Linked DNA regions of Homo sapiens. The protein of the gene in region 1 purifies or fractionates together with the protein of each later gene. This does not show direct contact. Each region holds a gene or a part of one and is shown on either strand. Other genes may lie near its edges.

Region 1 (3,500 bases):
CAGCTACTTGGGAGGCTGAGGTAGGAGGATCGCTTGAGCCCAGGAGGTTGAGGCTTCAGTGAGCTGAGATCACACCACTGCACTCCAGCCTGGGTGACAGAGCCAAATCCTTTCTTGAAACAAAAACCAAGAAACCAAAAAGAAAAATTAGCTGGGCATTGTGGCTGGTGCCTGTGGTCCCAGCTACTCCGGAGGCTGAGGTAGGAGGATTGCTTGAGCCCCGGAGGTGGAGGTTGCAGTGAGCCGAGATGGTACCACTGCACTCTAGCTTGGGTGACAGAACGAGATCCTGTCTCAAAAATTTTTCCCCCTATTATTTTCCTATTATGATCAGTGCCACAATGAATTTCCATGTGTTTGTATATATGTGCACACATCTGCCCTTACTCCAATGGTCTGGCATTTCTGTAGGAAGAGATTTAAATATATATAAAATGACATTTTGGTCAAATGGAAGAGGTTCTTGTAGGAGCCATTCTGGGGTGGGGTGAATGGAGCAAGGTGGACAAACATTTCCAAGGATGCTCTGGAAGCAGTGTGTGTTTTTCTCTTTGACCTGGTCTCTCTGGCTGCTGATCAGGCCCTTGGAAATCCTGAGATTTCAGGCATTAGGAACACCTGGATTTTGATGTTTAAGAACCAGAGCGAACTGAAAGGCCAAGCTCTCTGAAAGCGGAACAGCTTTCTTGTGTCTCAGATGTCTCAAATTGAAATTAAATGGTAACAAGCCAGCATCAGGACCTGACAGGGCACCTGGGCACCTGGCTCCTGAGATCAGTACCCACTGGCCTCCCTTGGTTTTCTGGTATTGGGTTTTTTGTTGTTTGTTTGTTTGTTTTTTCATCACTGGGATGTATTTAAATTAAATAAGATGACCATCAGTGAATTAGCGAGCTGGAACTAGTGTAGTCCTGTAGGCAGAGCCTGGCCCTTGGTGCACACAGATCTGAATTTGCATCCCAGCTCCTCAGCTTACTTGCTGTGTGACCTTGGTCATGCCACTTCTCTGTCTCAGTTTTCCCATTTGAAAATGGAAAGTTACCACACAATTCATAGCATCAGTGAAGCTTAATGTAGATAAAGTGCTTATCACAGTGCCTGGGACTGAGTAACCCTTCGTAAATGGTAGCTGCCACTAATACTACTTGAATCTCAGTGCTGTTATCAACTTGCTGTGTGACCTCTGGTAAGTCTCTTAGTCCCTCTGGTCTCAATTTCCACGTCTGTAAAATGGGACTAATAAGCTGCTCTAACTGATACCCAGAATGTTCTTTATAGCAGGGGTCCCCAACCCCTGGGCCATGGACTAGTATCTATCCATGGCCTGTTAAGAACTGGGCCACACAGCAGGACGTGAACAGCAGGTGAACAAGCATTACCGCCTGAGCTCCGCCTCCTGTCAGATCAGTGGCAGCATTAGATTCTCATAGGAGTGCGAACCCTATTGTGAACTGTGCATGCGAGGGATCCAAGTTGCGTGCTTCTTATGAGAATCTAATTCCTGATGATCAGAGGTGGAACAGTTTCATCCCAAAACCATATCTGCCCCCTGCCAGCACCCCTGCTGCCATCTGTGGAAAAAGTGTCTTCCCTGAAATTGGCTCCTGGTACCAGAAAGGTTTGGGACCACTGCTTTATGGCCTCTAAAACATTTTTCAGGCTTTTCTTATCCTCTCACCCACCAAGGACAGCCATGGATAGGAGGCAGGTCTTGGGGTGGCAGCTGCAAGATGTAACCAGAAGTTGCTGGACAGGTGGACTGTTTCAATTTAGACCATGAGGAATAGTTTCGTTTCCAAAGCATTTTGTTTAGCATCTGTGTGAACGAGAGATAGGCGAGGAGCATTTCTAGTTTGGGGGAGAGTAAGAGGGGAGGCAGATGCCCGCCAGCAGGGTGTGCTGTGTGCCTTGTGACCAGTCCAGAAAGAAAAGCAGAGGTCTCTGAGGAGCAAGGGGCCCCTGCCAGCCTGCTCTTTTCAAAGCTCATCTTTCAATTCCTGACCCTTGGCTCCAGCCCCTCGAGTGGGTGCCCACCGCTCTTAGGATGAAAACCAGTGTCCTGTTCCTGACTGCTGGTGCCTATGTGGTCTGGCCTTGCCAGCCTGTCTGACCTCATACTCACCGCTGACTGTCTGCTCACCAAGCTTTGGCCACGAGGGCCTTCTTAAATTCCTCAAATGCCCAGCCCCTACCCACCCCAGAGCCACCTGTCTAGAACTTTCTTTCCTCCCTTTGGTCTGGCAGTGTCTCCTCATCCCTCTGCTCTCAGCTTATTATTTTATTTTAAAATATTTCTTTTTAAAAGGCCAGGTGCAGTGGCTCACGCCTGTAATCCCAGCACTTTGGGAGGCTGAGGTGGGCAGATTGCTTGAGCCCAGGAGTTTGAGACCAGTCTGGGCAACGTGGTGAAACTCCGTCTCTACAAAAAATACAAAAATTAACCAGGCATGGTGGCGTGTGCTTGTAGTCCCAGCTACTCAGGAGGCTGAGGTGGGAGGATGGCTTGAGCCCAGGAGGCAGAGGTTGTAGTGAGCTGAGATTGCGCCACTGCACTCCAGCCTGGGTGACAGGGCAAGACCCTGTCTCAAAAAAAAAAAAACAAAAAAAGAAGAAAAGAAGAAAACCCTTCTTTTTAAAAGATACGGTCTCGCTATGCTGCCCAGGCTATTCTCTAACTCCTGTGCTCAAGCGATCCTCCTGCCTTGGCCTCCCAAAATGCTGGTATTACAGGTGTGAGCCACTGCACCTGGCCTGCTCTCAGCTTAAAAGTCACTTCTTCAAGGAGGGCTTCCCTGACATGCCACCCTCAATCAAACCTAGGCTGCATTAGCACTTTTCTGGCAGTGGGTACGTGTCCTTCTTAGCGCTTGTCACGATGTGAGTCATGATTTGTTTAGTGTTTTTCCTGCTTGTGTAAGCTCCAGGAAGGCAAGGCCTATGTCTGTTGCTCTCCAGGCTCTTAAATCCCTGGGTGAGGAGTAGGGGCTGTTTGGGGGAAGATAAAGTTTACCAGAGGTATCTGGATGTGGGGCCTGTTTCTTTAAAGGCTGGGCTGTGGACTGGGCTCCCAGGAGGGTGAGTCTCCTTTTCAGGTGTGGCATAGTGTGTCATCACCAGCCCCTGAATGATTTCAGCCAGGCCAGGGGAAGGGCTGACCGCAACTGGGGCAGAGGACCCTGGAGAGGGAAAGGGTTAGACCGCCACCTGCTGTCTAGTGCTGGTATAGCCTCAGAGCCGAAAATCATTCCGTTTATCCAACTGGTGTTTATTCTGCACTTGCTGTTTTCTGAGGTCTTAACATGTGACTGGTACTATGCCAAACACTTCATATTCCTTCAACAGATAGCCTGTAAGCTCCTGCTGTGTGACAGACACTGTTCGAATTTCTAGGAATACCACAATGAACAAAACGCAAAAATTCCTGCCCCGCTGGAAAGCGGAGGCCGACAAAACATAAAGCCTCGCTGATGGCAGAAGTCCCGCGGGGAAAAATTAAGTGG
Region 2 (3,500 bases), on another chromosome or scaffold:
GCATTTGGGGGAAGATATAAAAGAAATAGGAGCGTGGATCTTACCATTAAAGAACTTTCTGCCAAGTGGGGAGAAAAAAATTCTTGCACATGAAATTACTGATGAACATTTGGGAAATAATATCAACCAGTAAAAATGCCTTCTGTGCCAGATGAGCACTGACAACTTGTCACCATGCGTAACATCTCCTGGATGTTTCAGCGTGAGCATTTGTTCCACAGGGGTGGTGCTTGTCTCCCCTTCAGTCAAGCACAGTGTTTTGAGAAGGAAGGAGATGAAATAAAGAGATAAAGAAAAGAAAGCTGCCATAAAATGAAAGAGGTTTGATTTAGTGAAAATCCAATGACCTCCCAAAGAGTGGGGCATGATAGTATATCAAATTCGACACCGTGGATAAGATCAGGGCTTCTCAGTACATCAGTGTTTTATTCCTCTCTTTCATTGGTTTAAGATGGACAAATCCCCGCCCCTTAAAAATAATTTTTAAAAAGGGAAGTGTTAGAATTCTTTCGCTTTTGAGTTTTTAAACATATATGCAAAATCAAGCAAAAGAAGAGTCTTGCTTTTATGAGGTCGGTCAGATAACAGCCCAGGGGACTGTAAAACTCAGAGTGAGACTAAGAGCTACCGCAACACTGAAAATCCTGGAGCACCTTGGGGATTCTCAGCAGATCTTAGTTGACAATTAACTGGTGGACTCTAAGTGAATCTTGTTAGCGAAGTGTTGGCCTTGTCTAAATTCTTAACTCCTGTGGCTTTGCATAACAACTTGGTGTTTCTTTTCTGAGGCTTTGATGTTTATATAACACTCTCAACTTATTTTGAAAACATTTACATAGTGATTAGTTAACCCAACAGACCAATCCTGGGAAGACAGCCAGAGCCTGCAGCACCTTAGTAACAGAAAAACTGATAATTAGGAGAAGAGACCTGTCCAAGACCAGGAACCTGGACCAAAATTGTGCCATGTTGCTTTACTTTAATGAGTGGCCCCAGTAAAAACTGAGCTGTATGGCAGAGCTGTTCACATTTATCTTCTGTGTCCACCCAGTTCTGCTGAAACCCCTGGCAAGATCGTGGCCCTGTTGTAGCTTGTCATGTTTTGAACAGCTGTCTATGGAAAGAAAGCAAACACAACCTAGAGCAACATTGATTTGTTTTAGAAAGCTCTTTTATTTTCAGTTCTGGCTGTGTTCAACATCTTAGCTTACGTTTTTCATGTTGTAATGATCTGCCGTATGGACGATCACCTCTAAGTTAGAGAGTTCTGTAATTTGGCTTGGATTAAAGATGCTTGGTTAGTGAAAGCTGCTGCTTTTTTTATAGTCAAAGGACTGGTTCTGAGAGCCTTGTTGCAGATGGCTGAGGTCACCGTCCCAAGGGTGTATGTCGTGTTTGGCATCCATTGCATCATGGCGAAGGCATCTTCAGATGTGCAGGTTTCAGGCTTTCATCGGAAAATCCAGCACGTTAAAAATGAACTGTCATGCAAGGAAAAAAAAAAAACCACAGATTTCATTAGTAAAATACGAGCTACCTGGAATTTTATGATGTATATTTTTAACAAAAATGACTCAGTTATTGACGTCTCCAAGTTTTTACTGATCCTAAGGACAGTGGCAAAATGGAAAGCCTGGAGTATGGGTAGGTGAGAGAGACGGAACACAGGTTAACCAGGCATAAAGAGATGAGATGCTTTAGTGAGTGGAGGTTCCCTGAGATGCTGTATGATTCATATAAACCAGTCAGTGGCTCCTTTAAACCTCACTGTCTGAAAGGTTGAAATAGTGTCTTCCCCTTTCTCTAGGCAACTAAGCATTACCTAAAACTCGCTGGGACTAAAGCAAGCTTCTGGGAATATTCTTCCCGTCACACCTCATGTAATTGCACCAGTGAAGTTAATTGAGTTGCTTTTTGAGGAACTCGTGTAAAAGGCATTTAGTTTCATGTAAAACAGGGAGGTGGTTTTGTAGCAGACGTCGTGTTCATTTAGTGCCTCTTGCTGCAGCCCTCCAGTCTAGCTATGATGGGGGCCATCTAAGCTGAATGAAGTAGAACGAATCAGCTTGGCCACGCTGACCGATTGCACCATCGGGGCAGGTTGTCTAAAGCTTGCCAGCTAGCATGGAAGCTCTGACCATGCAGTCTGCTGGCGCTAACAATTAGTTCACTTGAATAGTCTTGCTGTCAAAGTGGCTTTTCACCTTCTTAAAATCCTGGGCTAGAAGAGCTGGGAGAGAACCACCTTCAGCCTTGAGTTTGGCAGTCTGGCTGTCCGCCTGAGAACCAGGCAAGAGAGGAGGGTGTCTTCTACTGTACGTGACCCTCTCATTCTGGTAATTTTGCTCCCAGTGTGATCTGAGCTTATGTATATGCCCCTGATGTGAGTGCATGCAGGAGTGTCACTGGCCAGGGCTGGTCCTACAGAGACTGGGGGTCTTGCTGTGGGGTGCATCAGAAACTGGGTGTTCCCGAGCATTCCCTAGAGACTGGTGGGGTACAGAGAACGGGAATGTGCCAGGTGGTGACCACGGTAGGACTGGAGAGGCTGCCACAACCTGTCCTTGTCTCTGTCTTACACACAGGTGAGCACTGTGGGCTATGGGATGGATGAGGTGGAGCAGGACCAGCATGAGGCCCGACTCAAGGAGCTGTTTGACAGTTTTGACACGACGGGCACAGGGTCCCTGGGGCAGGAGGAACTCACCGACCTTTGCCACATGTTGAGCTTGGAGGAGGTGGCCCCAGTGCTGCAGCAGACATTACTTCAGGACAACCTCTTGGGCAGGGTAAGGTCTGGGGAAGAACGTGGCTATGGGAAGTGGGGTGCGGTTTCTGCCGGGGTGCTGGGGGTGGGGCGGACCACACATGTTGCAACTTGTTTCTAGCATCCTGGCTGTTACATGATAAAAAGAAGAATGTAATGGGTGTGACATCACAGTCCAGTTTGCTAGGGTGACAAGAGCCTGCTTTAATTTGTGCTCTGGAATTATGGTGTACAGTGAGCATCTTAGATAAAGAGGCAATGAAAGGATGTTTTCCAACTTTTTTCTTGTTCTTTGTGGTTTATTTTATTGACTCCACATTCATCACTGGGACAGAAAGGAGGAGGGTGAGATTTCCATTGAAGAGAAAGAAAATGCAGTAAGAAAGCTATTGTTATGACTTTTACTCCCAGTGAAGCTATTTCTTGTGTGGATTATTTCTGGGTGAAGTATTAATTAAACTTTCTACCCAGGAAATAAGACAGCAGGGTAAATAAATACAGTGCAGGTTCATTTAAAACCCAGCACGGCTTGCTTCCAGCAGGGATGTGTGTGTGCACGCCAATGTTAACCTCTGTGTTTGATGACAAATAGTCATGTTATTACCATAGATCAAGTCACAGATGTGAGTAAGAAGTGAGAGAGGGTCTTTTTTTCCTCTTGCCAATGGTGGATATTTGATCTGCCATGACCTGAGATTGCCTTCAATTCTCCTCATTATAATTAATAGCTTTT
Region 3 (3,500 bases), on another chromosome or scaffold:
GAAGAATGCCCTGTATAAAGAAATATGTTTTATTTTATTTATTTATTTGTTTATTTTATTATTATACTTTAAGTTCTAGGGTACATGTGCACAATGTGCAGCTTTGTTACATATGTATACATGCACCATGTTGGTGTGCTGCACCCATTAACTCGTCATTTACACTAGGTATGTCTCCCAGTGCTATCCCTCCCCCCTCCCCCTACCCCACAACAGGCCCTGGTGTGTGATGTTCCCTTCCTGTGTCCAAGTGTTCTCATTGTTCAATTCCCACCTATGAGTGAGAACAAGTGGTGTTTGGTTTTTTGTCCTTGCGATAGTTTGCTCAGAATGATGGTTTCCAGCTTCATCCATGTCCCTGCAAAGGACATGAACTCATCATTTTTTATGGCTGCATAGTATTCCATGGTGTATATGTGTCACATTTTCTTAATCCAGTCTATCATTGATGGACATTTGGGTTGGTTCCAAGTCTTTGCTATTGTGAATAGTGCTGCAGTAAACATACGTGTGCATGTGTCTTTATAGCAGCATGATTTATAGTCCTTTGGGTATATACCCAGTAACGGGATGGCCGGGTCAAATGGTATTTCTAGCTCTAGATCCTTGAGAAATCGCCCCACTCTCTTCCACAATGGATGAACTAGTTTACAGTTCCACCAACAGTGTAGAAGCGTTCCTATTTCTCCACATCCTCTCCAGCACCTGTTTTTTCATGACTTTTTAATGATCGCCATTCTAACTGGAGTGAAATGGTACCTCATTGTGGTTTTGATTTGCATTTCTCTGATGGCCAGTGATGATGAGCATTTTTTCATGTGTCTTTTGGCTGCATAAATGTCTTCTTTTGAGAAGTGTCTGTTTATGTCCTTCGCCCACGTGTTGATGGGGTTGTTTTTTTCTTGTAAATTTGTTGGAGTTCATTGTAGATTCTGGATATTAGCCCTTTGTCAGATGAGTAGATTGCAAACATTTTCTCCCATTCTGTAGGTTGCCTGTTCACTCTGATGGTAGTTTCTTTTGCTGTGCAGAAGCTAGTTTAATTAGATCCCATTTGTCAATTTTGGCTTTTGTTGCCATTGCTTTTGGTGTTTTAGACATGAAGTCCTTGCCCATGCCTATGTCCGGAATGGTATTGCCTAGGTTTTCTTCTAGGGTTTTTATGGTTTTAGGTCTAACGTTTAAGTCTTTAATCCATCTTGAATTAATTTTTGTATAAGGTGTAAGGAAGGGATCCAGTTTCAGCTTTCTACATATGGCTAGCCAGTTTTCCCAGCACCACTTATTAAATAGGGAATCCTTTCCCCATTGCTTGTTTTTCTCAGGTTTGTCAAAGATTAGATGGTTGTAGATGTGTAGATGTGTAGGGCTCTGTTCTGTTCCATTGGTCTATATCTCTGTTTTGGTACCAGTACCATGCTGTTTTGGTTACTACAGCCTTGTAGTGTAGTTTGAAGTCAGGTAGCGTGATGCCTCCAGCTTTGTTCTTTTAGCTTAGGATTGTCTTCGAAATGTGGGCGCTTTTTTGGTTCCACGTGAACTTTAGTTTTTTCCAATTCTGTGAATAAGGTCATTGGTAGCTTGATGGGGATGGCATTGAATCTATAAATTACCTTGGGCAGTATGGCCATTTTCATGATATTGATTCTTCCTACCCATGAGCATGGAATGTTCTTCCAATTATTTGTGTCCTCTTTTACTTCGTTGAGCAGTGGTTTGTAATTCTCCTTGAAGAGGTCCTTCACATCCCTTGTAAGTTGGATTCCTAGGTATTTTATTCTCTTTGAAGCAATTGTGAATGGGGAGTTCACTCATGATTTGGCTGTTTGTCTGTTATTGGTGTATAAGAATGCTTGTGATTTTTGCACATTGATTTTGTATCCTGAGACTTTGCTGAAGTAGCTTATCAGCTTACGGAGATTTTGGGCTGAGACGATGGGGTTTTCTGGATATACTATCATGTCATCTGCAAACAGAGACAATTTGACTTCCTCTTTTCCTAATTGAATACCCTTTATTTCCTTCTCCTGCCTGATTGCCCTGGCCAGAACTTCCAACACTATGTTGAATAGGAGTGGTGAGAGAGGGCATCCTTGTCTTGTGCCAGTTTTCAAAGTGAATGCTTCCAGTTTTTGCCCATTCAGTATCATACTGGCTGTGGGTTTGCCATAAATAGCTCTTATTATTTTGAGATATGTCCCATCAATACCTAATTTATTGAGAGTTTTTAGCACAAAGGGCTGTAGAATTTTGTCAAAGACCTTTTCTGCATCTATTGAGATAATCATGTGGTTTTTGTCTTTGGTTCTGTTTATATGCTGGATTATATTTATTGATTTGCACATGTTGAACCAGCCTTGCATCCCAGGGATGAAGCCCACTTGATCATGGTAGATAAGCTTTTTGATGTGCTGCTGGATTCGGTTTGCCAGTATTTTATTGAGGATTTTTGCATTGATGTTCATCAGGGATATTGGTCTAAAATTCTCTTTTTTTGTTGTGTCTCTGCCAGGCTTTGGTATCAGGATGATGCTGGCCTCGTAAAATGAGTTAGGGAGGGTTCCCTCTTTTTCCGTTGATTGGAATAGTTTCAGAAGGAATGGTACCAGCTCCTCCTTGTACCTCTGGTAGAATTCAGCTTTGAATCCATCTGGTCCTGGACTTTTTTTGGTTGGTAGGCTATTAATTATTGCCTCAATTTCCAAGCCTGTTATTGGTCTATTCAGAGATTCAACTTCTTCCTGGTTTAGTCTTGGGAGGGTGTATGTGTCCAGGAATTTATCCATTTCTTCTAGATTTTTTAGTTTATTTGCGTAGAGGTGTTTTTAGTATTCTCTGATGGTAGTTTGTATTTCTGTGGGATCGGTGGTGATATCCCCTTTATCATTTTTTATTGCGTCTGTTTGATTCTTCTGTCTTGTCTTCTTTATTAGTCTTGCTAGTGGTCTATCAATTTTGTTGATCTTTTCAAAAAACCAGCTCCTGGATTCATTGATTTTTTGAAGGGTTTTTTGTGTCTCTATGTCCTTCAGTTCTGCTCTGATCTTAGTTATTTCTTGCCTTCTGCTAGCTTTTGAATGTGTTTGCTCTTGCTTCTCTAGTTCTTTTAATTGTGATGTTAGGGTGTCAGTTTTAGATCTTTCCTGCTTTCTCTTGTGGGCATTTAGTGCTATAAATTTCCCTCTACACACTGCTTTAAATGTGTCCCAGAGATTCTGGTATGCTGTGTCTTTGTTCCCATTGGTTTCAAAGAACATCTTCATTTCTGCCTTCATTTCATTATGTACCCAGTAGTCATTCAGGAGTAGGTTGTTCAGTTTCCATGCAGTTGAGCGGTTTTGAGTGAGTTTCTCAATCCTGAGTTCTAGTTTGACAGCACTGTGGTCTGAGAGACAGTTTGTTACAACTACTGTTCTTTTACATTTACTGAGGATTGCTTTATTCCAACTGTGTGGTCAGTTTTGCAATAAGTGTGATGTGGTGCTGAGAAGAATGTATAT
Region 4 (3,500 bases), about 56 Mb from region 1:
ACAAAATATGATATTATTAAAATAAAAGTGTGTTATATCAGATGGGGTTCAGGGAATATTTAAAAATTATTTTTAAGAAATACAGTGCAATTTTTAGTTTACATTTAGATGAAGCTTACTAGATTAAAAGTGAAGTAAACATGAAAACATGTCACACAAAAGAAGGGGAAGCAGTAAATATAACTTGTTTGAAGAACTGCGTCTACATAGAACAAGAGATCACAAAACTGGAGATAGGGTATATAAAGAACATTTGTTAAGTAAGTTACTCTTAATTAAGATCAGGTTTTGGACTACCAGCTGATAATTTTGAAGTATGTCAGCTAATGATTAAGACTATTCTTCTGCGCTGCCCCACACAAACATTTTTTAAGTGTTGGTCATTATGCAATCCAATTGCTTTTAAGATAGCATTTATGCTTCTCTCCTGCTGTTTTTTTTTTCCTATACATAACCAACAAGTTATTAAAAGAAAAACAGAAGCTTTATCTCATCCAAATGCAACTGGGAAAATATACTACTACATGATGCCTATAAATGTCATATGTGGTGAGCTCCTCCAGATTTATATTTCATGAAAATAATGGTTGATGTCATTGCCAGACATCTTGCAGTTACCAGGACTTTGTAATGCTGAACAAACAAATTAACATTATTTTTCTAAAAAGTACTACTGAATAAATCTGAAATTATTATCTAAGCATGAATACATATTCCTTTTAAACCAAAGCATATTTTGAAAAGCAGTAATGCAAAAAGATTTAAAACCTACTACACACTGTATAAAAACAGAATATTTAGGATACTTGTCCTTGAGATACACAATATTACATAATGAATAGTTTTTATGACACACATAGCTAAAAACAACTCATGTTTCTTCTCATTCATAGAAGAGTTATTTGGTTTGGCCGACAGATGTGGAATTTTGGTTCTACAAAAAAGAGTACTCCAGGATTCTGCAAAGAGCCAAAAATTACATGGGCAGATGACATACCATATACTACTAGCCTTTACAAACAGCTCTCTAGCAAGAAAGCCAACCTTAGTCTTGTGTCTCAATGTAATTCTCTTGTTTAAGTGTAAGGATTATAGTTATGCTAAATAGTGAGATGACAGTCAATTCTGTAACAAGTTCACTGCTTTCAAACAGATAAATATCATTGTAACTACAGGACCATCACAAATATCTTTCTAATAAGCCTACTCCAATTTGGTATTTGATCCTAAGTAGTATTTGCAAACATTATCTTTCCTTCTCATGGGGTGGAATTCCCATGCCCTTCCATATTTATAGAGAGAACTTTATTTATAATTGCAGTCAAAATTCCAGGTGTGGGAGAAATGTATGCTACTACTATTAAAGAGATGAGCAAATTTTATTTCATAAGATAATTTCCTCTACTTTTCTTAAAACCATTTCACAAAATTATTTATTCATCTGTTTATCTAAAACTTCGTGAGAATTTAAAAGGTAAGATTATGTTGAAGAAGCCACAACTAAACTATATATACATTTATAAGCAATGTATATATAAACTCTCTCTGTATCTATCTCTATCTCTATCTAGTAAAGAGGGGCTGGTCACAAAATTGAATACAAGTATCCATCAAATATTTCTCCATCATAAGTTGAGACAATAATTTTTATTGCAGGGTATCATGCCAAAATTATATTTTTAAAAGGATACTATGCTCAGGAACATCAGTTTTCTCAAAAATTCAAGCTATTCATTAATTCATTTACTTCACAAATATTTGAGTACATACTATATGCAAGGAAATGTGTCAAATACTGTCAAGTAAAATTATACAAAAGTTAGCTGGCCCTCTCCCCTAAAAGGCTTATGATCCACTGAGATCAGCACTCACATCCCTTTAAAATACTTTATCCCCTTGAGCTAGAAAATTTGAGTGAGGAAGTATTAGAAAATATTTGGGCATTCCTTAAGTGGTAATTACCTGATCTTGCAATGACATCACTGGATTATTTTTGGTAGTGTTGATATGAAGGACATGGTATTTATTCTTTGCACACAGGTCATAGGCGATATTGGTAAATGAAGTGCTTGCCGTTTTGGGAACTCTGTTATAAATGATCACCATGTCCTCTTCCTCATCTAAAGTGGCATCTTGCCGAGGGCCATCCATTGTATGTCGCTGCTCAATTTCTCGGACTTCGTGTCTTGCAATAGCCCTTTCTGGAAAGAAAAACAGATACGAACTAAGTTTTTAAGGACACTATAAGGAAGTTATGAACACTGAACTTTGGACCATGATTAGAAAAGATACAAAAAAGAAAACAAAAAACAAAAGCAAAGAACCAAGGGATATGGAAAACATGGGTAAATTGCTTGGGTTTCTAAGAGGATCTAGTTGATTCTAAAACAGCTGTACAGCCTGGAACATAATCTTCCTATTCAAGAACTAGGTAAGAGCTGTTGAAGAAATGTTTTGAGGACCAAAGCTTCAGAATTCCTTATGAAGGATAATACATATGTATATCAAGAACAAAAAGGAATAAAGAGTCAACAAATGCAGAATAGCACAGACCACAGAGTACTTCAGTGCAGTTCAAAAGTCACTTTACATTCTAATAGAATTCCTACAGCCTGAACTAATTCTCAAACACACAAAGATTGCATGGAATACTAAACTTCACAGTATAAAAATGCACTTAAAAGAGAAATTACTTATAATTTAAGAAAAGGTTTTGAAATTTATTACCCGATTTAGTTATTCTCTGGTTTATAAAAATGTAGCAGGACAGTGATTATAAAGTGATTATAAATTATAAATTAAAAAACTGTAACAGGACAGTGATTATAAAGTGATTATAAATGCTAATATGACTTAACAAGAGTAGAAACAATATGACTTAGAAGGGTAGAAACAATACTACCATAAATCCTTTTTCTTTTTGGTGTTGCATTAGAAACTATGTTTAGCACATGGCTATGCTTTTCACTTAAATTTCATGGTTCCTCTAAAATTACCTATCTGCTATGTGGTTTCAAAAGCAGTTACATTTTGCTTTCTAGTATTCTCTATTTAATGCAAACTTCAGCTTCAAATATATATATTCAAATATCTATACATTCTAATATACATTCAAATATATATTTTTTCTTTTATAAATATATATGAATAAGGATGCAAGAAAAGGAGAGGAAAGAAGGAAATGAGGAGCGTGAAATCTCTAGCAAGATTGCAAATACTTTGCACGGGGATAGTTACACATATAGCACGTACTCTCTTAACCCCCAAGTCTTTGTGCAAGCTATCTCACCTATCTTGAACAATCTTCCATTTCCCCACCCAACCTTTACATTTCAACTCAATTGCTTCCCAGGGAAGCATCTGATAGCTCTGACTAGGTCAAATCATCTTTTTTTTTTTTTTTTTCGGAGACAGAGTCTCGCTTTGTCACCCAGGCTGGAGTACAGTGGTTCGAACTTGGCTCACTGCAACCTCTGCCTCCTGGGTTCAAGCAATTCTCT

The links. Proteins that work in one complex are often made in the same cells at the same time.
Region 2: the proteins of SERINC2 (region 1) and NIN purify together in Homo sapiens (affinity purification with mass spectrometry; one large-scale study listed by BioGRID and IntAct). This does not show direct contact.
Region 3: the proteins of SERINC2 (region 1) and RABL3 purify together in Homo sapiens (affinity purification with mass spectrometry; one large-scale study listed by BioGRID and IntAct). This does not show direct contact.
Region 4: the proteins of SERINC2 (region 1) and HS2ST1 purify together in Homo sapiens (affinity purification with mass spectrometry; one large-scale study listed by BioGRID and IntAct). This does not show direct contact.

What each region holds. Positions count from the first base shown.
Region 1 is NC_000001.11:31,419,713-31,423,212, forward strand, and holds part of SERINC2 (serine incorporator 2), read left to right. Parts: intron 1-3,500. UniProt on the Homo sapiens protein: Non-ATP-dependent, non-specific lipid transporter for phosphatidylserine, phosphatidylcholine, and phosphatidylethanolamine. Functions as a scramblase that flips lipids in both directions across the membrane.
Region 2 is NC_000014.9:50,821,163-50,824,662, reverse strand, and holds part of NIN (ninein), read left to right. Parts: intron 1-1,153; exon of another isoform or gene 1,154-1,481; intron 1,482-2,585; 5' UTR 2,586-2,606; coding exon 2,607-2,789; exon of another isoform or gene 2,790-2,866; intron 2,867-3,500. UniProt on the Homo sapiens protein: Centrosomal protein required in the positioning and anchorage of the microtubule minus-end in epithelial cells. May also act as a centrosome maturation factor.
Region 3 is NC_000003.12:120,732,517-120,736,016, forward strand, and holds part of RABL3 (rab-like protein 3), read right to left. Parts: intron 1-3,500. UniProt on the Homo sapiens protein: Required for KRAS signaling regulation and modulation of cell proliferation. Regulator of KRAS prenylation, and probably prenylation of other small GTPases. Required for lymphocyte development and function. Not required for myeloid cell development.
Region 4 is NC_000001.11:87,071,635-87,075,134, reverse strand, and holds part of HS2ST1 (heparan sulfate 2-O-sulfotransferase 1), read right to left. Parts: intron 2,202-3,500; coding exon 1,963-2,201; intron 1-1,962. UniProt on the Homo sapiens protein: Catalyzes the transfer of a sulfo group from 3'-phospho-5'-adenylyl sulfate (PAPS) to the 2-OH position of iduronic acid (IdoA) or glucuronic acid (GlcA) within the heparan sulfate (HS) chain and participates in HS biosynthesis.